Homo sapiens: one gene and its partners. The protein of the gene in region 1 purifies or fractionates together with the protein of each later gene. This does not show direct contact. Each region holds a gene or a part of one and is shown in the gene's direction. Other genes may lie near its edges.

What was found.
Region 2: the proteins of CAMSAP2 (region 1) and NADK purify together in Homo sapiens (affinity purification with mass spectrometry, with the first as the bait; one large-scale study listed by BioGRID). This does not show direct contact.
Region 3: the proteins of CAMSAP2 (region 1) and MAST3 purify together in Homo sapiens (affinity purification with mass spectrometry, with the first as the bait; one large-scale study listed by BioGRID). This does not show direct contact.
Region 4: the proteins of CAMSAP2 (region 1) and RASAL2 purify together in Homo sapiens (affinity purification with mass spectrometry, with the first as the bait; one large-scale study listed by BioGRID). This does not show direct contact.
Region 5: the proteins of CAMSAP2 (region 1) and SRSF12 purify together in Homo sapiens (affinity purification with mass spectrometry, with the first as the bait; one large-scale study listed by BioGRID). This does not show direct contact.
Region 6: the proteins of CAMSAP2 (region 1) and ZNF638 purify together in Homo sapiens (affinity purification with mass spectrometry, with the first as the bait; one large-scale study listed by BioGRID). This does not show direct contact.
Region 7: the proteins of CAMSAP2 (region 1) and ZBTB21 purify together in Homo sapiens (affinity purification with mass spectrometry, with the first as the bait; one large-scale study listed by BioGRID). This does not show direct contact.

The regions. Positions count from the first base shown.
Region 1 is NC_000001.11:200,829,393-200,832,892, forward strand, and holds part of CAMSAP2 (calmodulin-regulated spectrin-associated protein 2), read left to right. Parts: intron 1-2,807; coding exon 2,808-2,949; intron 2,950-3,313; coding exon 3,314-3,453; intron 3,454-3,500. UniProt on the Homo sapiens protein: Key microtubule-organizing protein that specifically binds the minus-end of non-centrosomal microtubules and regulates their dynamics and organization.
Region 2 is NC_000001.11:1,775,671-1,779,908, reverse strand, and holds the start of NADK (NAD kinase), read left to right. Parts: upstream 1-1,438; 5' UTR 1,439-1,620; intron 1,621-4,238.
Region 3 is NC_000019.10:18,125,278-18,128,777, forward strand, and holds part of MAST3 (microtubule-associated serine/threonine-protein kinase 3), read left to right. Parts: intron 1-3,122; coding exon 3,123-3,181; intron 3,182-3,500.
Region 4 is NC_000001.11:178,475,104-178,479,350, forward strand, and holds the end of RASAL2 (ras GTPase-activating protein nGAP), read left to right. Parts: 3' UTR 1-3,747; downstream 3,748-4,247. UniProt on the Homo sapiens protein: Inhibitory regulator of the Ras-cyclic AMP pathway.
Region 5 is NC_000006.12:89,098,266-89,101,071, reverse strand, and holds part of SRSF12 (serine/arginine-rich splicing factor 12), read left to right. Parts: intron 1-2,124; coding exon 2,125-2,494; 3' UTR 2,495-2,806. UniProt on the Homo sapiens protein: Splicing factor that seems to antagonize SR proteins in pre-mRNA splicing regulation.
Region 6 is NC_000002.12:71,348,782-71,352,281, forward strand, and holds part of ZNF638 (zinc finger protein 638), read left to right. Parts: 5' UTR 1-173; coding exon 174-1,490; intron 1,491-3,500.
Region 7 is NC_000021.9:41,993,361-41,996,860, reverse strand, and holds part of ZBTB21 (zinc finger and BTB domain-containing protein 21), read left to right. Parts: intron 1-2,752; 5' UTR 2,753-2,765; coding exon 2,766-3,500. UniProt on the Homo sapiens protein: Acts as a transcription repressor.

The DNA.
Region 1 (3,500 bases):
TTAAAAAATTATCTTTTTGACAGACCTAGTTCCTTTTCAGCTTGAATTATAGATGACACTTCACTTTTTGTGTGATTAAGAAAGCAGAAGGTTTTCTGTGACCTCACCAGTAGCGGACCAAAACCATATTAAATTCTGATTTGACTTAAAGATTGATCTTTCAGATTTAAATATGGGGATGGGTGTGTTAAACCACTTAAGAACTATTTTACATCCTCGATAATAAAACTCTAATTTAGAAATATACCATAATGGCCGGGTGCGGTGGCTCACGCGCATAATCCCACACTTTGAGAGGCCAAGGCAGGTGGATCCTTTGATCCCAGGAGTTTGAGACCAGCCTGGGCAACTTGGCAAAACCTCATCTCTACAAAAAATAGAAAAATGAGGCAGGCATAATGGTACACATTTGTGGTTTCACCTACTCAAAAGGCTGAGGTGGGAGAATCACCTGAGACCAGGAGGTCGAGGCTGCAGTGAGCCATGATTGTGCCACTGCACTCCAGCCTGGGTAACAGAGTGAGACGCTATCTCCAAAAAAAATAATAATAATAAAATAAAAATAAAACAAACAACAAAAAAAAGGAGAAGAAAATAAATATACCATAATGTTGAAATATAAAAATATAGGGGGTTCTTTCTAAATGCCAAACTTCTTAGTTTGCAGAAAGAAAGGGCATGTTTCCATGCAATAAGTTTATAAAGCAAATAGCATGTTCAAGTACAAAAGACTCTTTCATGAACTGCGGATGAACCTTCTGAGTGCTGGACATAATCTCAAGATTTAAAGTTGGTTTACTTAATATATCTTCTAGAATACAATCTTTAGGAAAATGTTTTGGCATCCCATTCATAATTCTCTGTCTAGTCTAAACCATAGATACTTATTGCTAATGTCATATAAAGCTGTGTGTGTGTGTGTGTGTGTGCACGTGCACATACATGTGCCTGTTTGCACATACCTTGTACAAAAGTGCTACTTTGCAGGAGGGAGTAGAACAAATCACATAATTCAATTCTTTGTTGCATGACCCTGGGTGCTTGGCTTAGTCCAATTCAGGTCATAGGCTGAAAACAAACTACTAGTCCCAGCCCAATTTTGAGGATGTCCAAGAGGCAGACTGTTTTTATCCCAGATAACCAAAGAAAAGCATGTAAGGATCTGGAACAGATACTAATTGTGAGAACGGTAGCTTAAGCCTAGAAGATACCGCTGTACTGGTTGATTTCTTTTTTCTTTCTTCCTTCCTCTTCCCTCCCCATGGTTGATTTTAAGCTGTTTCTTAGCTGCAAAGTGAGGAATTTTCTAAGAATTATGTTAAAATCAGAATCAATTAAAGAATCCATATAGTACCTGCAAGTAATTTTTTTCTGAATATAGTTACCCCCTGAATTAGGGATGTACTCTTAAATACGGAGTCTATTATGCACTAATTAACAAGAACCTTCAGAAATCTTTAAGAGGAAAACATGTTCCATGAATTTTGTCCTTGGGTAGCCAGTGAGAGAAATCCAGGAATAAGTATCTCCTTCTTCATTAATGCTGATGCTTTTCTGAGAGATAGCATTGAAAAGAAATCTAACTTCACTACCAAATGTTGTGTTCTCTTTCAGTAAATTTTTATTTTTCTATTTTTATTCTCACAAAAGTGTTTTATCTTATAATTATATTTTAATTCTAAACTATAGAGATGACCAATTTAGATGGAATTAGAAGAAAAAATAGTTTGATAACCTTAAAAAAACTACCAGTAATTTATGTTATATATTTTGCTAGCAAAATACTTTCGTGTGTACATTCACTAAATCTTCAGCATTATTTTACTTGGCTTTAGAAGAGTTAACAGCTAATAATAGCTAACCTTTATTGATTGCTTGCTGTGTGCCCAGCAGGATGCATAGCACTTTGTGTCCATCATCTTACTTAATCTTCCAGTGGTTCTATGAAGTGGGTACTATTATTACGCCAGTTTACAGATGGGAAAATGAGAAATGAGAGTTTAAGTAACTTGTCCAAGATCACAAAACTAGTAAGTGGCAGAACCAGGATCTGAACCAGGATCTGAATTTGTTCTCTTAACTATTACAGCATGTCTCATTTTTTAGAGATCTATTTTTAAAAATTCTATCTAGCCACACCAAACAATCTTTAGGAAACAAAGGTTTCTTCTCTTTTTCTGAGGGGGAGCAAGAACCCGTATACTTGCTCAATTATTAATGAAATCTAAGTTGGAAGGGTTTTTTTTTTTTTCACTTTCAAAGTTGTTAACTATTTGTGTTTCCTCAACATTCAGATAATAACCCAGAATGTCTTGGTGATACTATTCCAGTTCCTCAAATTTCTTTTAAGAATAGTATATTCTTTTACCTTCCCCCTCATTTTGATAACTCTTTCTGCTTGAATAGTATTCTTGCTCTTCCCGTATAAGAATTTTCAGTTTAAATTAAGTCTGAATTAAAGTAGATGAATTTTATTATCTTCAAAAGAGCAGAACTGATTATTTGGATACAAAGTGTTCAAAATCTGTTTTGTGATGCTTTTATACTTAAATATTTAAGCCAAATGTCAGTTAGTGTAAATTAGCAGTATGTTATATTAAGTATTGAGCTTCAAAACTATAGCTATTGTTGCCGTGTATTTAACTTTGGTAATACCTAGCGTTATTTAGAAAAAAAGAAATATTGGTGAGTGGTCTCATTTCTCATGATTTATTTTATTACTGGTACATTAGAATTTACAGTACTGATTTTTTTCCTATGCGTTATTTGGTACTTATTTATTTTCATGTATTTTTTTTATATCGTAGGCTCGTTATCGGAAAGAGCAAACATTGCTTAAGCAACTGCCTTGCATTCCATTGGTAGAAAATTTGTTGAAGGATGGGACAGATGGCTGTGCATTAGCTGCCCTTATTCATTTTTACTGTCCTGATGTTGTCAGATTAGAGGGTAAGTGTTCCATTGTAATACTTCTGAACTGTAGACAGATAGTAACCAATATTTAAGACAGTATTATTTTGCACTCCAGCCTAGGTGACTGAGTGGGACCCTGTCTCAAAAAAAAGACAATATTATTTAATAAGTACTGAAGACTTTTTTTTAAAAATAAAGAACATTTATATATAATTCTGAGGGAGGTAGTTCAAAAAAAAATAGTGCTCGGTTTCTAAGTCTTAATGTATAATGACTACTATATTTATAAATGTATGTTTGTTAACCAGAATTGTGTATTTGTACTAATTACAAGATGGATATGAAATATTTATTATCAAATTAATCCAAAGTCACCACCTTGCTCTTTTCTTATTTGAAGATATTTGTTTGAAAGAAACTATGTCTTTGGCTGATAGCCTGTATAATCTGCAGCTGATTCAAGAATTTTGCCAAGAATACTTGAACCAGTGTTGCCATTTCACTCTGGAAGATATGCTCTATGCTGCTTCATCCATAAAGGTAAATTAAATTATTCTTTTTTTCCCTTTGCTTTGTTAAAATATGTT
Region 2 (4,238 bases), about 200 Mb from region 1:
GCAGGTATGCGGGTGTGGGGAAGGGCTGCAGAGGACTCAGGTCCACACCGACCCTGGGCCAGGTGATCACACAGAAAGTATAGACAGGGACTGAACCTCAGAAAACAATGGCTGGGCCAGGTGCAGTGGCTTACGCCTATAATCCTAGTACTTTGGGAGGCCGAGGCGGGTGAAGTTTGAGACCCAGCCTGGGCAAAATGGTAAAACCTCATCTCTACACACACACACACACACACACACAAATATATATATATATGAATGAAGTAGTCGAGTGTGGCGGGACCTACTTGTAGTCCCAACTACTAGGGAAGCTGAAGTGGAAGGATCGCTTGCACCTGAGAGGTCAAGGCTGCAGTGAGCCGTGAGCCCGCCACTGGACTCCGGCCTGGGGGACGAATGAGACACTATCTCAGAAAAACAAAACAATGTCTGGCACCTGGGGGACCAGCAGGTTAGAGCAGCTGGTCGTGCATTGCCAGTTTACCTGACAGTGACTCGAGAGCTGAGAACTGGGTATAGGGCACATTATTGGGATATTTGAGGCCTGAAGGCGCTGATGAGCAGCCACCAGTTCAGCAAGTGCGGGCTGGGTGGGACCCGCAGTTCCAACAAACACTACAAAGTCCGCTCCTGTGGCTTTGGCCTCCTCCCCCAACTCCCCGAGTCCTCCAGCCTGTGGGGTGCGCAAAACACGGCTCCCTGGTCCCCCTAGAGGTGCCCCAGGCCACCGGGTCCTCCCTCCACTGCCAGCCTTGGGATCCCAAGCGTAGACCTCTGAGGACGTTCGTGGGCGTGCAAGGCGCACCTGGCCGCTAGAGGTGGGCGTGAGGCCGATCGCGGTTCCCCCAGGCGCAGGGCCGCCCTCCCAGCCCCGACGGACAGCCCCGAGGGAGCGCAGCGCTGCCGCAGCTGCTCTAAGTTTCGGTTCCCAAATCCGGCTCGGCCCACACCGTGTCACAGCCCGGTAATTAGGGAAGCGGCGGCGGGCGGGGCCAGCTCTCGCGGGGCACCTGCACTCCCCTGAGCCGGCCCACGTGGTCCGGGAGGTCCCGCCCGCGGTGGCGGTGAGTTGGGGGCGGGACGCCGGGCTGGGATCACAATGTCGGGGGCGCCTAGGCGTAGACGTGGCGGGCGGACCCGGGGGCGCCCTCCGGACGCGGCAGGTGAGTGGGGACGGGAGCCGGGGGCCGCCCTCCTCGGGGCGCCGACCCCCGCCTACCCGAGTCGCGGACGCCCGCCCCTGTCCCCGCTGCCCGCCTCCACTCCCTGGTCACTGCTCTCCACCGCGATTCGCCCCTCTTCCCCACCGCCCGCCTCTTTCCCGCCACGCCCGCCGCCTCCCGCCCGCGCGGGGTGTCCCGGCGCCGGTGGGACCCGGCAGACGCGCGGGACGCCCCACGTGCGCGGCAGCGCGCATGCGTGGCGGGTGCGCCTGCGCAGTGGGCGGGCGCGGCGCATTGCTGCTCGGCGGCGCCGGCGCCGGGGTCCGGGCGGCCATGGGGCAACAGGCGGCCAGGGCGCCAAGGGCCAGGTAGCGACGGCTGGCGGCGGCGCGGCGGCGGGGCCTGCGGGCTCGGTCCGGCATGTAGACGCCCCCGCAGGCGCCCGCGGCAGCGAACGGTGAGTGAGCAGACCCGGCCTGCCGTCCGCCTGGGGTCGCCCGCTGCCTGGGGTCATCGCTGCCCGCGAGCGCGCGGCCAGGCGGGGAGACACCAGGCCGGCCCTGCCCATCTGGCCTGCTGAGGAGGCCGTGGAAGTGCTGACGGGCCACCGCTCCGTCCCGAATGGGGCACCAGCACGGCCCAGGGCGAGGCTCGGCCTTGGGGACGGGTCTGAGGGAGGCCGCTGTCCGGCCTGGCTCTCCCGGGCGGGGAAGGTGGGGCCGTCCAGCCCGGACCGCGCTTGTCAGTCGCCTCTGCTTGGGCGGCCAGGTCCTCGGTGTCCGGCCTTCCGTGGGTGGTTTCAGCAAGCAGGAGGGGTCTTTGACTCGTGAAAGCTTAGAGGGGCCCAAACCTAGTGGGAAAGTATGAATAAAAGATTCTATACAGCAGTATTGGCATGGAATTCTCTAAAAACACATCTCTGATTTAGTGCCCAGTACTTGCCAGAAAATTCCAATAGTCTATGGTGATGTTCCTACAGGCGGCTGCCATCCAGTAGGTCAGATGTCAGCACCGGCCTTGAGCTCTAGGTCGTCGTTTTTTTTCTTAATTGTGGGAACAGGGCGTGCCCAGCTCCGAAGGCCTGGTGGAGTTTTCCTTCCCAGGCCAAGGACCACCCCCACCCTCCCATCCCTCCTCCCCAAGCAATGAGATTCCTTTTGGCTTCGATTCCGAGTAACAAGTTATTTTTCCTTTCTTGTTTTGGAACACACTAAGTTTTACATTCAAAAGTTCATTATTCTTGGCTCTTGATGGGAATACATTTCAAAACTCTTCTCTTCTTGTGTTCCATGTCTCTCTGACAGCCTTAGTTGGCCTGAAACTGACATGTTTGCCTTAATAAGTTTTTTTTTCCTCCTGATGTCATCTTGTCTAAGAAGCTAGTTACTTTAACACCTTGTTAGATAATTCCCTTCAAGTACTTATTCCCCTGAACATTGTCCTCTCAAGCCTCTGGAAATTTCCTGTCCCCTTGGAACTTCTCTGTAAGGCCTGTTTGCTCTCAGCAGTGACTTCACTGGGACTTTTGCAGCCACTTTATGGTGTTAGCACGCTGATTCCAAGCTACTTGAGGAATCACAGGTGCCACCGCAGTACCCAACAAAATAGCTTCATCATTTGGAGGTGTCCTCTCGAGATGTTTCTGTGTGTATATGTGTGTGTATGTTAGAAACAGGGCCTCACTCTGTCCTCCAGGCGTGTTTATGGTGGCATGATTATAGCTCACTGTAACCTCAAATTCCTGGGCTCAATTGATCCTCCCACCTCAGCCTCCTGAGTAGCTGGGATTACAGGCCTGCACCACCACACCTAGCTGATTTATAAAATTTTTTGTAGAGATAGAGTCTCACTGTGTTGTCCAGGCTAGTCTCAACCTCCTGGCCTCAAGAGATCCTCCTGCCTCCACTTCCCAAAGTGCTGATCTTACAGACGTAAGCCACTTTGACCAGTCTTTTTTTTTTTTTTTTTTTTTTAAGACAGAGTCTAGCTCTGTTGCCCAGGCTGGAGTGCAGTGGCACAATCTCGGCTCACTGCAACCTCCACCTCCCGGGTTCAAGTGATTTTCCTGCCTCAGCCTCCTGAGTAGCTGGGATTACAGGCGCCCACCACCACGCTCAGCTAATTTTTGTATTTTTAGTAGAGACGGGTTTCACTGTGTTGGCCAGGCTTGTCTCGAACTCCTGACCTCGTGATCAGCCCACCTTGGCCTCCCAAAGTGCTGGGATTACAGGTGTGAGCCACCACAGCTTGCCTCACTTGGACCAGTCTTTTTGTTTGTTTGTTTCATTTGAACTTGGAGGTGGGTTTATGTTGTTTCAGTTGGCAGCCTGCTGTTTGGTTCCAAAACAGCATTTTCTTCTTGAAACAACTGCTGTCAGCAGTTAGATTTCCAGGCTAGCACAAAAACCTGTTTGACTCATAAATCCTTGTAGTGAGGGTGTCCCAGAAAGTTGGCCAAGTCAAGAGCAGTTCTTGTGGAGTGGAGGCGGTGAACAAATAGGGGGAAAGTGGCGCTCGTGATGAAAACGGAAAACAATAGTTGATTTTATTGAGCTTCACGCTTGAGGAAATGTAGGTCTCACTTGGAAAATTAAGAGGCAGGTGGGTGTTTGCGGGACTCGACGGCCTTGCATCTGGATTACCTCCAGTCTGCAGGTGTGGTAGGATGACAGCAAGAGGGAGTGTTGAGCACACAAGCCCAGCACTTGGGGGGAGGCTGTGTCATGGCAGGAAGGTACAGGGCCTCCTCCAGCAGCTCCACTTTCTAGTCCGTATATACCTGTTGACAGTCACCGCCCAGCTTCAGCCGTTCTGGACAAGTGGGTGTCAGTAATGCTTTAGCTTGTAACCCCAGGATTTCATTTCTACTCTCTGTGCTGGTGGCTTATCATTTGCAATCTTTCCTGGCCCACAATTGCAAAGGTCCTAGCATTCATGCATGGGAATGGGGAAGTGAATAAAATGTGTGTGTGTGCTTCAGACAGATGGTGAAAAGTGTTCAGAGAAAAAGCGAAATTGAGGCAGATGGGATGTGAGGATGCCACGCACACTTTGTGCAACTGAAGAGGGAGGTGA
Region 3 (3,500 bases), on another chromosome or scaffold:
AAATGCCACGTTAAGATGGTCAGGAAGCCTGGGGACCAGTGTTAGCAGTGGCCTTCCCTTTGTCCTGCAAATTCACAAATGACTTTACCAATTTCTGTGGCCTTTACTGTGGCCCAGAAAGTGAACTTGGAGTCAAACAGGACAACCCGTAGGTAAGAAGACGGTCAAAAACTCCCACAGCCGGCCGGGTGCGGTGGCTCACGCCTGTAATCCCAGCACTTTTGGGAGGCCGAGGTGGGTGGATCACAAGGTCAGGAGTTCAAGACCAGCCAGGACAACATGGTGAAACCCCATCTCTACTAAAGATACAAAAATTAGCCGGGTGTGGTGGCGTGTGCCTGTAATCCCAGCTACTCGGGAGGCTGAGGCAGGAGAATCATTTGAACCCTGGAGGCGGAGGTTGCAGTGAGCCGAGATCACACCACTTCATTCCAGCCTGGGCAACAGGGCAAGACTCTGTCTCAAAAAAAAAAACAAACAACTCCCACAGCCAGCCAGGTGCAGTGGCTCACGCCTGTAATCCCATAATCCCAGCACTTTGTGAGACTGAGGCGGGTGGATCACTTGAGGTCAGGAATTCAAGACTAGCCTGGCCAATATGCAGAAACTCCATCTCTACTAAAAACAAATATTAGCCGGGTGTGGTGGCATGTGCCTGTAGATCCCAGCTACTTGGGAGGCTGAGGCAGGAGAATCGCTTGAACTCAGGAGGCAGAGGTTGCAGTGAGCCGAGATCACGCCACTGTGCTCTAGCCTGGGTGAAAGAGTGAGCCTACATTTCAAAAAAAAAAAGATGTAGCTGGGTGTAGTAGTGCGCGCCTGTAGTCCCAGCTACTCAGGAGGCTAAGGTGGGAAGATCGCTTGAGCTTGGCAGGTTGAGACTGCAGTGAGCTATGATCACACCACTGTCCTCCAGCCTGGGTGACAAAGCCAGACCCTGTCTCAAAAAGAGAAAAAAAAAAATTTCCACAAATAGCCAGGATAAGAGGAACTGAAAGCTGGAGCATTGAACTTGGACCTAGCCTGGTCCAGCAGTAGCCAGGGGGAGGCTCTGGGAGGAGGCAGTGTTCAAACTGAGGCCTGGAGGGCAGGAGGTGACCAGGTTGCAGATCCAAAGGAAAGAGTGAAACAGGCAGCATAGGCATAGACCCTAAGGTTGGACCATACCTGGAGTGGGACTGACCTGCCACTGTCCCCATTGAAAGCTGGGGAGGCCCGGCATGGTAGCTCACACTTGTAATCCCAGCACTGTGGGAGGCCAAGGCAGGAGGATCACTTGAAGCCAGGAGTTTGAGACCAGCTTGGGCAACATACTGAGATCTCGTCTCTATTAAAAAAACAATTAGCCAGGCATGATCGCACATGCCTATAGTCCTAGCTACTTGCGGGGCTGAAGTGGGAAGACTGCTTGAGCCCAGGGGTTTGAGGCTGCAGTGAGCTATGGTCGCACAACTGCACTCCAGCCTGGGTGACATAGCAAGACCCCATCTCTACAAAAAGTAATTTTTTTTTTTCTTTTTTGAGACAGAGTCTCGCTCTCTCGCCCAGGCTGGAGTGCAGTGGCACGATCTTGGCTCACTGCAAGCTCCGCCTCCTGGGTTCACGCCATTCTCCTGCCTCAGCCTCCCGAGTAGCTGGGACTACAGGCGCCCGCCACCACGCCCGGCTAATTTTTTGTATTTTTAGTAGAGGCGGGGTTTCACTGTGTTAGCCAGGATGGTCTCGATCTCCTGACCTCATGATCCGCCCGCCTCTGCCTCCCAAAGTGCTGGGATTACAGGCGTGAGCCACCGCGCCTGGCCTACAAAAAGTATTTTTAAAAATTAGCCAGGCGTGGCGGTGAATGCCTGTAGTCCCACCTACTTGAGAGGCTGAGGTGGGAGGATTGCTTGAGTTTAGGAGACTGAAGCTGCAGTGAGCCATGATGGCACCACTGCACTCCAGCCTGGGTGACAGAGCAAGAGCCTGTCTCTGAAATAATCATACTTGGCCGGGTGCGGTGGCTCACGCCTGTAATCCCAGCACTTTGGGAGGCCAAGGCGGGCAGATCACCTGAGGTCAGGAGTTTGAGACGAGCCTGGCCAACATGGTGAAACCCTGTCTCTACTAAAAATACAAAAATTAGGCTGGGCGTAGTGGCTTATACCTGTAATCCCAGCACTTTGGGAGGCCGAGGCAGGCGGATTACCTGAGGTCAGGAGTTCAAGACCAGCCTGGCCAATGTGGTGAAACCCCATCTCTACTAAAAATACAAAAGTTAGCCAGGTGTGGTGGCAGGCGCCTGTAATCCCAGCCACTCGGGAGGCTGAGGCAGGAGAATCTCTTCAACTCAGGTGGTGGAGGTTGCAGTGAGCCAAGATCTCGCCACTGCACTCCAGCCTGGGCGACAGAGTGAGACTGCGTCTCAAAAAATAAAAATACAAATACAAAAATTAGCTGGGCATGGTGGCACACGCCTGTAATCCCGTCTACTTGGGAGGCTGAGACAGGAGAAGCACTTGAACCCAAGAGGTGGAGGTTGCAGTGAGCTGAGATCACACCACTGCACTCCAGCCTGGGTGACAGAGCGAGACTCCATGTCAAATAAATAAATTAAATAATCATACTAATAAAAAATAAAGCTGAGGAAACTGAGGCTCCAGGCAGATAAGGCTGAGCAGGGAATCAAACCCAGGTGTACCTAAGGCCAGATCACATGTGGTCTGTGGCTGGACCATGTTTGCCAGGCATTCGCTAGGGGCTGCCCCTCTGCCAAGGCCTGGGGCAAGAACATATTGGACCCTCCACCTGGGCTGCACCCTGAGCTGAGGAAGATGTTAGGAGCTGACACCCAGGGGGCCTGTGTCTCATCCCGTCTTCACAGGCTCAAGGCTCAGAGCCTAAGTTTGATCATGACTGAGCACTTCAGAGCCAGGGCAGCCCACTGGCCCTTCTAGAAGGTTCCTAAGTCATTGCTTCATCCAGCCTCCCGGATGTGGCTTCATGACAGTGTCATGAGAGCTGGTCAGGGGAGGCACTGCATCCCCAGCCTGGGGTGAGAACTCTAGAGGCCTCAGGAAATTGCTGGGTGATGCAGGGTGAGGCAGGGAGGCTCCAGCTGAGCCTCCTCCCTCATCTTGCAGAGATGGTGCCACTGAGTCACCTCGAAGAAGAACAGCCCCCAGCACCTGAGTCCCCAGAGGTGAGTAGCAGAGGCTGGGGGACCCCCGCTCATCTTGTTCTTTCCAGAGTGGACCAGGCACCCGCAGAAAGGGCTGGGTTTGCCGAGGTCTTGCATGTAGCTTAATTAGCATCGGTGACTTTGGAGGCAAGGTGACGGCACGTGGGACTGCCCTGCCTTGGAAGTCGGGTGGGGGCAGTGCTGGAGGGGCACTGGACAGGTGAGTTTTGCAGGACGTGTAAGAATTTCCCAGGAGGAGGGCACAGCTGTGAGCAAAAAAGTACAGAAAGTCAGAAGCTGAGTTGGAGAAGTTTGGACAGGGGAGGAGGTAGCATCGGGC
Region 4 (4,247 bases), about 22 Mb from region 1:
TGTTGGACCTTACGTTTCAGCAACCTCACCATGGCCACATAACCCACAACCTTTTAAAACAGTTTCTTTCATAGCAATCCCTGTTTCTGCCAGACAGATCTAAAATGGGAGTTTCTCACTGTGTTTATCTGATCTGCACACTTTATATCCAGCTGTTTTGGCACTTTTACGTTTTCTTCACCTTTGGTTTTGGTTTGCAAATTCTTACACCTTCTCTCCAAGCGGAGGGCACACTGTGGTCAAAATCACTTATTTTATTAGGAAAAAGAGGTAACTGTTCCAAAGTGTAGTGTCCTTTGTTGAAGGAGGAGGGATGTAAGCATAGATTTGTTCTTGTTTCTGGCTATTCTCAGCTCAAGCCATGTTTAATTCATTCTTTGTAAAAGCCTTCAATTGTGCCACAGAAAACCTGGTAAGAGAATTGTCAGTTTCATTGGCCATAAGTATGTAATGTGGGTGATGTCTTGCCATTGAGGTTTGGAAGCTCTTAAGTGCCGATTATGGATTACAGAGGGCTGATAAAATTACTTATATTGGGAATTGAGAGAAGCCCCAAAAAATCAAATGTGCTTTTGATGGATAGAGTGTATCTTATTAGCATTATGGGAGCTCCTTAGAGGGCTGTCTTCACTGAAAGATTTAATGCCCAAAACATTTGGACAGATTATGCAGCCTTCTACTACCAGGTTATCTTGAATGAAGAAGAAATAGTAAAAAATAATAATAATAGAGCATTACCAATAAGCTAAAAGTTCAGAGTTGCTGATAGATGTTAAATGTTAAGTTATCCTGTGAGCCTACTCCTGTCCAACCTTTTTTCTCAGTATTTCTTTAGAGAATGCTGCAATCTGTATAAGTTACTCTGAAGGATTTTTTAAGAAGAGAAGCCACCAACAGGTGATAATTTTTATGGAGATGTTTCTTAATTGGCTTTCCCTCAGTTCAAGTAGGTAAATAACTTTGTTTGCTGGGAGGAGGTACATGGCTGAAGAGAGGCAAATAGATTAAGATAGCAATGTCTTGCACTTCCTGTTTCCCTCAAAACAACACCACATTGTGGGGCGCAGGATAGATCAGGGTTGAGTGGAATTTGGAATTCAGGTGAAGTGCTTGTAAAGTGCATGTCTAGCTGACAACAGACTTGACCATTAATGAGGACAGTGTTGGTAGGAGTCAGAAAAGAGCTTCATATTCCCCTTTTATATTACTGAAGCAATAAGCAATCTGAGCTGAAGCAGCAAAAAGAGTCACATTTCCATCAGGTCATCATATTCCCTGAGTCTCTGCAGCAAAAGCCATGTCAGAGGGGAGATTATAACTAGGTAACTATAACAAGCACTTGAGCACTTACCATGTTCCAAGCACTATCACCAAGGTACTGTTGGGGTTTATGGCAGTCTAACGGTAAGAAAAATGTGGTAAAATGAGGTAATCATGCTGCTATAGCTTTTTGCTTTTTTTCATATAGTATCAAGTTGGTCAGAATTAGCTTTCTCTGACTGGTCTGCTTCCGTGTTTCTCTGTGATGGTGTTAAGATTATGAAAGAAAAAGAAGATTACCTAAGACTGCTACAAGTGTTAACTATATGCCCTTAAGAATGAGCTTGACTTTGGAAGTAAAGCTTTTCAGATCTTAGTCTACCCGGGGCCTTTGTTGATGGGTCTGTGGTTCTGTAGACCCCTGGCTTTCACTGTGTTCTCAGAGGTACACCAGATTGAGAGCAGAGTTCTTCTTTGGAAGTCCCAGAGCAAAATAACTGCCATCAAGTGAGTTTGCATTCGTATTTGTTTCCCCTTCCATAGAGGGTTAGTTTTAGTTACCTCTAGCTTGGAGTTCCTGAGAAGGCTGGTTATAGGACTGAGCGTGGGAAAGGAACCCTCTTCAGGATTACCTCAGTCCCATCAGTCTACCCCATTGTGACATTGAGCCCAACACACACGCTTGACACCAGACTAGACTTGTCACAGGGCCAAACCCAACAGCCACATGCCATAGCTTCACTGCATTTTCAGCTACACCTTTGGAGGCCACCTTCTCCTATCAACTGTGGAAAGCCAGAAGGGCTCCCTTCTCCATTCTCCTTCCCTTTTTCAAGTCTAATAGTGAAATCTCCTGCTTACCCCAGCAGTAAATAGTTGCCTTCCTACCCCTTACCTGGGGGCCGATAATTTGAGATACTTTGTTTTTTCAATGCGTCAGTTGAAGGATTTAGTTTCTTAAAAGCAAGAAATGTTGGAGTGTTGAATTTTTAAATAGAATCTCTTTTCATGTTTGAATGATTGTTATTAGTTCTAGAAGCATTCTCTTTGTCATGACCCGATTATGTATACTCTTGGGTTTAGGAAGGACAAAAGTGATGAAATTTGCATGAGATAGAATAAATATCTTAGGAGGAGTGAAAGAACCTGAGGAAGAGACACGACCCTAAGGGAATGAATGCATAAGCAGTCTTCTCAGTAGCCCAGAGTTTCCAGGAAACAGGAATATTTATATCCCTTGCCCACTCTTAAAATACATAGATACATAAAAAGGCAGTCTCTGTAGACAACACATGCACACACCCACACAAAACATAATTCCTGGGGCTTCCTTTTTCTGAATGTTAATCCATTTTATCGAGCAGTGATTCCCAAACTTTGAGATTTTCAGATTTTATGCTCTCGTCTGTTAGATTTTATGACATTCTATCATCCTAAAAAATGTACTATATGTGTTATATGTATATATAAGTTAAAGCAACTTGAAATTGACTTGGTTTGGCATTGTCTCAAGAACCCTAGATATCATTATTGATACCATGGGGAATCATAGAAATAAAGTTGAATATCATTGATCTGAGAGTAGGATCCAGAAATAAGTAGTTTCAGTTCCTGATCAGTTAAGCCTCAAGTGTTTGAGTAACCAACACAGCAAGACTTGGGAAATGCAGTGAGCACCCGAGGAAAGGAAAGTGGTAGTCTTTGCCTGCATTTCAGCATGCATTTTCCTTTCCTACTCAGTTGCTATCTTCCACTTAAATACCCTCATTTGACCCTAGGAAGTTTTTTGTTTTTTTTTTTAGTTTGAGACTTAAAACCAGATTTATTTGTTGTTGTAGAGAGATTTCCACAGAAGTTGTGTTTTAGGGACCTCCATCATCTTTGTGGGGGTACAGATATTTATGTGTAAATATCATTTTATGTGATTTCCAAATTTTCGAGGGAAACATTTCAATTCCCAGTTCAACAAAAGGTTAAATACTAATTGACTCAATGACCACCTTCAGGAAAGTTAAATAGTAAATTAGGTTAAATTTTGACTGGTGCTTAGACATTTCCTAGTTATATTAACTTAAGCAGACAGCAGCACATTAACCTGAGTTACACCTGTGAGGAAATGACCTTCTAAATTTGATTTTGTTTTTCATCTCCAGGGCCTTAATAAGAGTGTGTTAACACACGACTATTTTACAATGATAGCTCTAAATAATTTATTTTTTATTTCAAGAAAGAGAAATACACCTTAGAAAAACAAAACCCAAGATTTTATTTTATTTTTAAAGCCATATTTTTGTGCTAGTAGCATTTAGATTATTCCGTATGTGAGATCCGTATCAGCATTTCATTACCTGGGTTTGTTCTAAAGAAGATTTATTTTTGTTCTGTGAATAATTTTTGACAGTTCTTGTACATGTACAGATATAGATACGTTTGAGGTCTTTTATTGATATTCCTACAAAGAATACAAATAAACTTTAACTTTAAACATTTCAGACTAAAGTTGCTACTATATTTGACATATTGCTGTCTTCTAGCATGCACCTGGGTGACTAGGACACTTGAAGAGAAACAAGAAAGGAAATGTATGCCGGAATATTCTTCTAAAAATATATTTTAACATTAAGAACAGTCTGTCCTAGAATTTCCCAACTTCCATGTAATAAGATTTCAATTTAGGAAAAATAACTAGCATTAGCATGTATTGTGATAAAACTGTTACTTTCGAATTCTGCAGAATTTGAAATCTCTTTAATAACTTGTGACAGGTAAAGAAAGTTTCATCTGGTTTATTAGGAAATGTAGCCCCACTTAGCTTCCTAGACCACTACCATCCTCTTGTAATTTTCCAGTTAGATTAATGGGGTTTGTTTTCAGGATTTTTGATGTTTGGTTCAGGTTTTTTATTTTAATTTCTTAATAGAAGTTCATTTGTCATTCCCAACATGATTGTTCCCAAATACACCCATCTTCTCCTGCATCCCTGTTTC
Region 5 (2,806 bases), on another chromosome or scaffold:
AATGGCACGATCTTGGCTCACTGCAACCTCTGCCTCCCAGGTTCAAGTGATTGATTCTCTTGCCTCAGCCTCCTAAGTAGCTGGGATTATAGGCATGCACCACCATGCCAGGCTAATTTTTGTATTTTTAGTAGAGATGGGGTTTCACCATGTTAGTCAGGCTGGTCTTGAACTCCTGACCTCAGGTGATCCACTCGCCTTGGCCTCCCAAAGTGGGATTACAGGCATGAGCCACTGCACCCAGTCTAGTTCATTATTTCTTCTGCTATATCTAGATTGCTGTTAAGACCATCTAATGACTTTTTAATTTCAGATATCATATATTTTTAGTTTTAAATGTCTATTTGTTTCTTTTTATAGATTGTAGTTTTCCACTGAACGATCTTTTTATCTGTTTTGTCTTTTCCTCTTATTTTCTTAAATATATTACTCATAGTAATTTTTTAAATTCCTGTTTGATGATGCCAATATCCAAATCACTTTGGGAATGATTCTTTGCCTTTTATTTTCCTTAGTTTTTAGTTATTCTTGCCTGTTTTTTTTTTTTTTAACATAACATGTGGACATGGACAAAAAATTATAGAGGCTCTGCATGACATTATCATTCTCCAAAGACAGTTTTCTTCTGGTAGACAGAGTACTGGCAGATCACTTTGATCTTAAGGCTTGGTTTTGGGTGTTGTTAAAGCTGCTTGTTTTGGCTTTGAATTTATTCCTAGGGCATGGCCCTTACCTCTAGATTGTAGCCCTTCTGGGTTGTTACCTAATGTTCCTCATTGACCTTTTGGGAGTTTGAACTCTAATCTCTCTCTCAGCACTGTGTGTCTGATAAAAATTTCAGCGCAGTTCTTGAATTTCTGAATTCCGGTTTTTTGCTGGTCCCTTGGAATCTCTTCCATACACACACAACTTAGAAGATGGCCAGTGATTTAAGGATAATTTGTAGGCAAATTTTAGAGGTACTTTTTGGTCTCTAATTCACTCTTCTCTAGAGTTTTTGCCTCTCGTGTCCCACCCATTTTGGTAGCCCTGAATTAACTTTTCTCTCTTCAGCTTAGTCAAATAGCCATTTTCTGGTTGGGCTCAACTCCTCCATGCTGTCATTTGAAAAATGGTCTTAGTAAAAGAGCCAAGGCTTGTAATCCCTCAGGTTCTTCCTGCTTGTGTTGATTATCCTCCAGTGCCTTCGAACAGTTGTTTTATAAATGTTGTGTAGCTTTTCAATATAGTTGTTTTCGGCTGGGTGTGGTAGCTCACGCCTGTAATCCCAGCACTTTAGGAGGCCGAGGCAGGGGGATAACCTGAGGTCGGGAGATTGAGACCAGCCTGACCAACATGGAGAAATCCCATCTCTACTGAAAATACAAAGTTAGCTGGGCGTGGTGGCGCATGCCTGTAATCCCAGCTACTCTGGAGGCTGAGAGAGAAGAATTGCTCAAACCTGGGAGGCGGAGGTTGCGGTGAGCTGAGATCGTGCCATTGCACTCTAGCCTGGGCAACAAGAGCGAAACTCCGTCTCAAAAAAAAAAAAAACATGTATGTGTGTGTGTGTGTGTATATATATATACACACATATATATATACACACACATATATATATACACACACATATATACACACATATATATGTGTATATATATACACACATATATATATGTATATATATATGGAGAGAGAGAGAGAGAGCTGTTTTCTATGGGAAGATTAGTCTAATACAAGCTGTTCTGTCATGGCAGGACCCAAAAGTCCTACATCTAGATTTTTATTTTTATAAGCATTATTTGAACTGTAAATAATTGATTTTTTTAATCTTTTTTTCTTCAGATTTTTGTACCTCTTAAGAGCTGTATAACTCAGACCAAATATGCAGTGTATTTTTCAGAACTGATCCCTATATGTCTAGCAAAGTAAAAATTTTTGGCCATATATTCTAGTATAACAAATATTACAAACTTGTTACTTATGTTTGAACCAAAAGCATGCATAATAAAATGAGAAATTTTTTTAGCTTATCTAGTAAAAATATAACTAATGTTATGTAAAGTATGTAAGTTCCTGAAAGTGTTATTTCCTGATCTCTTATTTTGTGTGAAATATATGCTCTAACATTATGGATGTTTGCAGGTCTCGACACAGGCGATTTTCTTATAGCCAGTCTAAATCTCGTTCCAAATCATTACCAAGGCGGTCTACCTCAGCAAGGCAGTCAAGAACTCCAAGAAGGAATTTTGGCTCTAGAGGACGGTCAAGGTCCAAGTCCTTACAAAAGAGGTCCAAGTCAATAGGAAAATCACAGTCAAGTTCACCTCAAAAGCAGACTAGCTCAGGAACAAAATCAAGATCACATGGAAGACATTCTGACTCAATAGCAAGATCCCCGTGTAAATCTCCCAAAGGGTATACCAATTCTGAAACTAAAGTACAAACAGCAAAGCATTCTCATTTTCGGTCACATTCCAGATCTCGAAGTTATCGTCATAAAAACAGTTGGTGAACAGCAACAGAAAGAGCACCACGCCGTCTTTAATATAAGTTATTAAACTCTCATTATGTTAAATAAAAATTCTTTAAGGCATACAGAAAATGCGAGTTGATATTAGTTACTTTGGGCATATGGAAGAAATAAAATCTCTAGCTTTGGATTAATAAAAATTTGGTCTCCATTTAAAGGGCCCACACTACAAATTATGATTTGTCTAATGTCACCATTTTATGGACCATTTTTTATTTACATTGTGGCAGAAGGGTACTTTTCAAGGGAAATGAGTAAACTGGAACTAATTTTTAAAATTCTACTTGCATAGTA
Region 6 (3,500 bases), on another chromosome or scaffold:
CACTTGTGAATTCCTTGAACCTGGGCATTGCAAACCCACTTCTGTTGGGCCCATCTCCTTTGCACTTTGCTCAGATTAAGACTCAGTTGGCGCTTCAGCAGCTGAATGCCGTTGCCTCACATGGTTCAACACCACCTTATACTTTATTAAATCAGGCTTTCTTGAAAATAGCCATGTCGAGACCCAGGTTTAATCCTCGAGGAGACTTTCCACTTCAAAGGCCACGAGCACCTAACCCTTCTGGGATGAGGCCTCCAGGACCATTTATGAGGCCTGGATCTATGGGTCTCCCAAGATTTTACCCAGCAGGGAGAGCACGTGGAATTCCACACAGATTTGCTGGCCATGAATCTTATCAGAACATGGGGCCACAGAGAATGAATGTTCAGGTAACTCAACACAGAACTGATCCAAGATTGACCAAAGAAAAACTGGATTTTCATGAAGCACAACAGAAGAAGGGGAAGCCTCATGGTAGCCGGTGGGATGATGAGCCTCATATATCTGCATCAGTGGCAGTGAAACAGAGTTCTGTAACACAGGTTACAGAGCAGAGTCCCAAAGTACAGAGCCGCTATACAAAAGAGAGTGCCTCAAGTATCTTAGCAAGTTTTGGATTATCTAATGAAGACCTAGAAGAACTTAGTCGCTATCCTGATGAACAACTAACTCCTGAAAATATGCCATTAATTTTGAGGGATATAAGAATGCGAAAAATGGGGCGCCGATTACCTAATTTACCTTCTCAGAGCAGAAATAAAGAAACACTTGGTAGTGAAGCAGTTTCAAGTAATGTGATCGATTATGGGCATGCAAGCAAATATGGCTACACAGAAGATCCACTTGAAGTACGTATTTATGATCCTGAAATTCCAACTGATGAGGTCGAGAATGAATTTCAGTCACAGCAGAACATTTCTGCATCTGTTCCCAATCCAAATGTGATATGTAATTCTATGTTTCCTGTTGAAGACGTATTTCGCCAAATGGACTTCCCCGGTGAGTCCTCCAATAATCGGTCCTTTTTCTCAGTTGAGAGTGGAACCAAGATGTCAGGCTTACACATTTCAGGAGGACAGTCAGTCCTTGAACCCATAAAATCCGTCAACCAATCCATTAACCAAACAGTTAGCCAGACAATGAGTCAATCTCTGATTCCTCCATCTATGAACCAGCAACCTTTTTCGTCGGAATTAATTTCATCTGTAAGCCAGCAAGAGCGGATCCCACATGAACCTGTGATTAATTCATCTAACGTACATGTTGGATCAAGAGGAAGTAAAAAGAATTACCAGTCACAGGCTGACATTCCCATTCGGTCTCCCTTTGGTATTGTGAAAGCATCCTGGCTACCAAAGTTTTCACATGCTGATGCCCAGAAGATGAAGAGACTTCCAACTCCTTCTATGATGAATGATTATTATGCAGCATCTCCAAGAATATTTCCACATTTGTGTTCTCTGTGTAACGTAGAATGTAGTCATTTGAAGGTGAGTGTTTTTAAAAAAAGATCACTGTATAATGATGCTCAGCGCCAGTTTTCTCTAAATTCTGATATGTATGCTGCTTGTTAACTAGGCGTTAAGGAAATGGCAGAAGGTAATTTTAATTGCAACCTCAATACATAGTTGTAATCTTAAGTAGCCCTGGCCTTAGTACTGAATTGAATTTTAGGCTTACTGTATTCCTATGACCGGGCACACCATATTTTAGTAGTGTGTCCATTTATTTTGAACTTTTAGTTATCCCACTTACGCAACATAAAATTTATGTAACATAAGCTGCGTACTTACAAGACAATGTCACATGGAATCACCTTTCTCTAAAAGGATCTGTTAGTATAAAAATACAAAGAGATGGTATAACCCATTTGTAATGCACACATTTAAGAGACAGTATATTATAGCCTTGCACATATACACCTGTCTTGGGATAAAGACAATTAATGTTGATTTAAATATTTCCTGACTTTATGTAGACTAGTGATTTTTAGTATTTTTTGAGAAGAAGCTTTCTAAAATAACTTCATAGCAAAAATAAGTCAAGGTGCAGTAATTATTCTGGGACCAGCTGTGGACTCAGAAAATAGTGTAAAATGATAGAAATTTGTAGAGAAAAATCTTTAAAAAATAAAGATGATTTAGGTAGTTTGATAGTATAGTTAGAAGGAAGTATTTTGCAGAGGCAGTGAAGTGTACTATAATGTAGAACATACTGTTCAGTCGTAATCATTGGTAGATTTGAGCAGGAATTTCCAAGTAAATTTTATTTACTTACGTATGGTTGGCAATCACTGTTTCTTCTATTTACTAATGTGATTTATAGATTTAGATTGTAAAGGGTCAGAAGAGAATATACTAACATGGGAAAAAGCTTTGATTCAAGGCCATGGCCTGGAATTGGTTGTATACTTAGGCTTAAAAATCTGTGTGTTAACGCTCTTGTTCTTTTCTTCCAGTGCTGCCTTTCGATTTTCTTTTCATTATTTACTCACTAGGTTTTCGTCAACATGAATCTGATAATTAGATCTGTTGGTATTTTCTTAAGGTTAACTCCAGCAAAAGAAAGCAGCATTCTACCCCATTTTAGCCAGATGTGCCAAATTCTATTAAAATAATAGTTGCCTTATTCCATCAGAAGGGATAGCAAAGTCCTTACAAGGGAAAGTCTTAGAATAATTCATATCACCTAATTGTAATCTGTAAGTAGCCCTGGCCTAAGTAGTGAATTGAGTGTTTGTCTGTATTCTTGTGACTGGGCATACCACATAATTTTTTTTAATTGATTTTGAACTTTTAATTAATCATAATGAATCCAAGAAAATACATCTTTAAATAAAGAACTTGAAGTTTTGTATTCTGTAGAGTAGAAAAGGTGTACATTTAATTTAGTATGTACTTATGGATACCAGTTTTGTACTTGACTCCAATTAGGTACTGGGGCAGAAATGAGGAACTGTGTAAAATTTTAGATGTTATTAAGCAGTTTATTCAGTCTTATTGGGGAGAAAAATTATGCTCCCAAGACATTTAAAACAATTAGAAGACAACAAGTGGTTTTGTGATTGATTTAACTTGTTTGGATATGCTGTAGGGGACAGAGATTTCTGTCTTGATTTCAGGCATGTATCACTCAGGCCAGCATCATCAATTTACCAATTTAATCATTACCAATTTGCCAATTTAATTATTTTAACTATTGTATTTGTAACAGTATGTGTTTAAAAATAAGTATAAATATGCATCCTGACATCAAAAGACTTTTATAGCCTAGTTAGACTAATGGAATGTCAGTTACTAAATGCACTAAGTCTGTCTTGACTAGAATGATGTGGGAGAGAAGACTTCATGGAGTAGGTTGAAGATGGGTCTTGAATTGAGGCTTTAGATATGCCTGTATAAAGAGGAGGAGGGGGCCGGGCACAGTGGCTCACTGCCTGTAATCCCAGCACTTTGGGAGGCCGAGACAGGTGGATCACCTGAGGTCAGGAGTTCAAGACC
Region 7 (3,500 bases), on another chromosome or scaffold:
TGAGATTTATTCACTATCACAAGAAGAGCATAAGAAAGACCTGCCCCCATGATCCAGTTACTTCCCACTGGGTGCCTCCCAGATGTGGGGAATTGTGAGAGCTACAATTCAAAATGAGATTTTGCTGGGGACACAGCCAAACTGTATCATTCCACCCTGGGCCCCTCCCAAATCTCATGTCTTCACATTTCAAAACCAATCATGCGTTCCCAACAGTCCCCCAAAGTCTTAACTAATTTCAGCATTAACTCAAAAGTCCACAGACCAAAGTCTCTTCTGAGACAAAGCAAATCCCTTCCGCCTATGAGCCTGCAAAGTCAAAAACAAGTTAGTTACTTCCCAGATACAGTGGGGGTACAGGCATTGGGTAACTACAGCCGTTCCAAATGGGAGAAATTGGCCAAAACAGAGGCTTACAGGCCCCGGTGCAAGTCCAGAATTCAGCAGGACAGTCAAATCTCAAAGCTCCAAAATGATCTCCCTTGACTCCATGTCTCACATCCAGGTCAAGCTGATATAAGAGGTGGGCTCCCATGGTCTTAGGCAGCTCTGCCCCTGTGGCTTTGCAGGGTATAGCCCCCACTCCTGGCTGCTTTTATGGGCTGGCATTGAGTGTCTGTGAGTTTTGCAGGCACGCAGTGCCAGCTGTCGACGTATCTACCATTCTGGAGTCTGGAAGATGGTAGCCCTCTTCTCACATCTCCACTAGGCAGTGCCCCAGTGGGGACTCTATGTGGGGGCTTCAACCCCACATTTCCCTTCTGCATTGCCCTAGCAGAAGTTTCTCCATGGGGCCCTGCCCCTCATGGAGGGGACACAGCCCTGCAGCAGACTTCTTCCTGGATATACAGGTGTTCTCATACATCCTCTGAAATCTAGGCGGAGGTTCCCAAACCTCAGTTCTTTACTTCTGCACACCTGCAGGCTTAACACCACATGGAAGCCGCCAAGGCTTGGAGCTTGCACCATCTGAAGCCATGGCCCAAGCTGTACCTTGGCCCCTTTCAGCCATGGCTAGAGCACCTGGGACACAGGGCACCAAGTTCCTAGGCTGCACACAGAAAGGGGGCCCTGGGCCTGGCCCACAAAACCATTTTTTCCTCCTAGACCTCTGGGCCTGTGATGGAAGGGGCTGCTGCAAAGGTCTGACATGTCCTGGAGACATTTTCCCCATTGTCTGGGTGACTAACATTCGGCTCCTCCTTACTTAGGCAAATTCCTGCAGCCAGTTTGAATTTCTTCTCAGAAAATGGGATTTTCTTTTCTATCGCACTGTCAGGCAGCAACTTCTCCAAGCTTTTATTCTCTACTTCCCTTATAAAACTTAATGCCTCTAACAGCACCTGAGAACCTCTTGAATGCTTTGCTGCCTAGAAATTCCTTCTGCCAGATACCCTAAATCATCTCTCTCAAGTTGAAAGTTCCATAGATCTCTAGGGCAGGGGCAACATGCCACCAGTCTCTTTGCTAAAACATAACGAGTCACCTTTGCTTCAGTTCCCAACAAGTTCCTCATCTCCATCTGAGACTACCTCAGCCTGGATTTCATTGTCTGTATCATTATTGGCATTATGGTCAAAGCCATTCAGCAAGTCTCTAGGGAGTTCCAAAGTTTCCCACATTTTCCTGTCTTCTTCTGAGTCCTCTAAACTGTTCCAGCCTCTGCCTGTTACCCAGTTCCAAAGTCGCTTCCACATTTTCGGGTATCTTTTCAGCAGTGCCCCACTCTACTGGTATCAATTTACTGTATTAGTCCATTTTCACACTTCTAATAAAGACATACCCAAGACTGGGTAACTTACAAGAAAAAGCGGTTCAGTGGACTCACAGTTCCACGTGGTTGGGGAGGCCTTTTAATCGTGGTGGAAGGCAAGGAGGAGCAAGTCACATCTCACATGGCAGCAGGGAAGAGAGAACTTGTGTAGGGGAACTCCTCTTTATAAAATCATCAGATCTCATGAGGCTTACTATCATGAGAAGAGAACGAGAAAGACCCACCCCCATGATTCAGTTACCTCCCACTGGGTCCCTCCCACGACGTGGGAATTGTGGGAGTTACAATTCAAGAGGAGATTTGGGTGGGGACACCACCAAACCGCATCACCTGGCAAGGTGGCATGTGCTTGTGGTCCCAGCTACTCAGGAGGCTGAGTGGGAGGATTGCTTGAGCCCAGGAGATTGAGGCTGCAGTGAGCCATCATGGTGCCACTGCACTCCAGCCTGGGTGACAGAGAGATACCCTGTCTCAAAATAAAAACAAGGGTCTCACAAGACCTGCTTTGCAACCAATTGTTAACAGTTCACATTATGTTTAAGTATATGTAGTAATAAAGCTGATTTTCTTTCAGAATTATAGACTTCAGGGGTTTGATAATTCGTACTTGTTTTCTGAATTGGTAAGGAATAGTGCCAAGCATCAAATGGATAAGGACCCTAAATAATAAACCTTTATTTTCAAATATTGCTTCCATATCTACCTGCCAAGTTCTGGCAGCCTTTTTGATGATATACAAATGCCTATATTATAGTTCCTGCAATTCTTCTATTTTAATGAGGACCTACTTAAACCACGAGACTTATTTTACATTTTCACCATTATTTAAATAAGATTGTTCATTCATAGAGCTTCTGTTAGCCTACGGTCTGCTAAATATTGGTACCTATGCAAAGACAGCTGATGTTCCCTGCTCTTGAGGAGCCAGGGGAACTTTTCACTGCAATATCTGTAGTAATTTTACATTTTGTCTTTTAGATAAACTCAAGCCATGGAGGGATTACTGCATTACATCAACCCTGCACACGCCATTTCTCTCCTAAGTGCCCTGAATGAGGAGCGTCTCAAAGGACAGCTGTGTGATGTGCTGCTGATTGTTGGAGACCAAAAGTTCCGAGCTCATAAAAACGTCTTGGCTGCCAGCAGCGAATACTTTCAGAGTTTATTCACAAATAAGGAAAATGAGTCACAAACTGTATTTCAGCTTGACTTCTGTGAGCCAGATGCTTTTGATAATGTTTTAAACTACATTTATTCTTCCTCTCTATTTGTTGAGAAGAGCAGCCTTGCTGCTGTGCAAGAACTTGGCTATAGTCTTGGGATTTCCTTTCTGACTAACATCGTTTCTAAAACACCTCAAGCCCCCTTTCCAACGTGTCCTAATAGAAAAAAAGTGTTTGTAGAAGATGATGAAAACAGTTCTCAAAAGAGAAGTGTCATTGTTTGTCAAAGTAGAAACGAAGCGCAAGGAAAAACTGTTAGTCAAAATCAACCCGATGTAAGCCATACTTCCCGGCCCTCTCCTAGCATTGCAGTCAAGGCCAATACCAATAAGCCACATGTCCCAAAACCAATAGAACCACTTCATAATTTGTCATTAACTGAAAAGAGTTGGCCGAAAGATAGTTCTGTGGTATATGCAAAGTCTCTTGAGCATTCTGGATCTTTGGATGATCCTAATAGAATCAGTTTGGTGAAAAGAAATGCAGTGTTGCCTTCAAAGCCT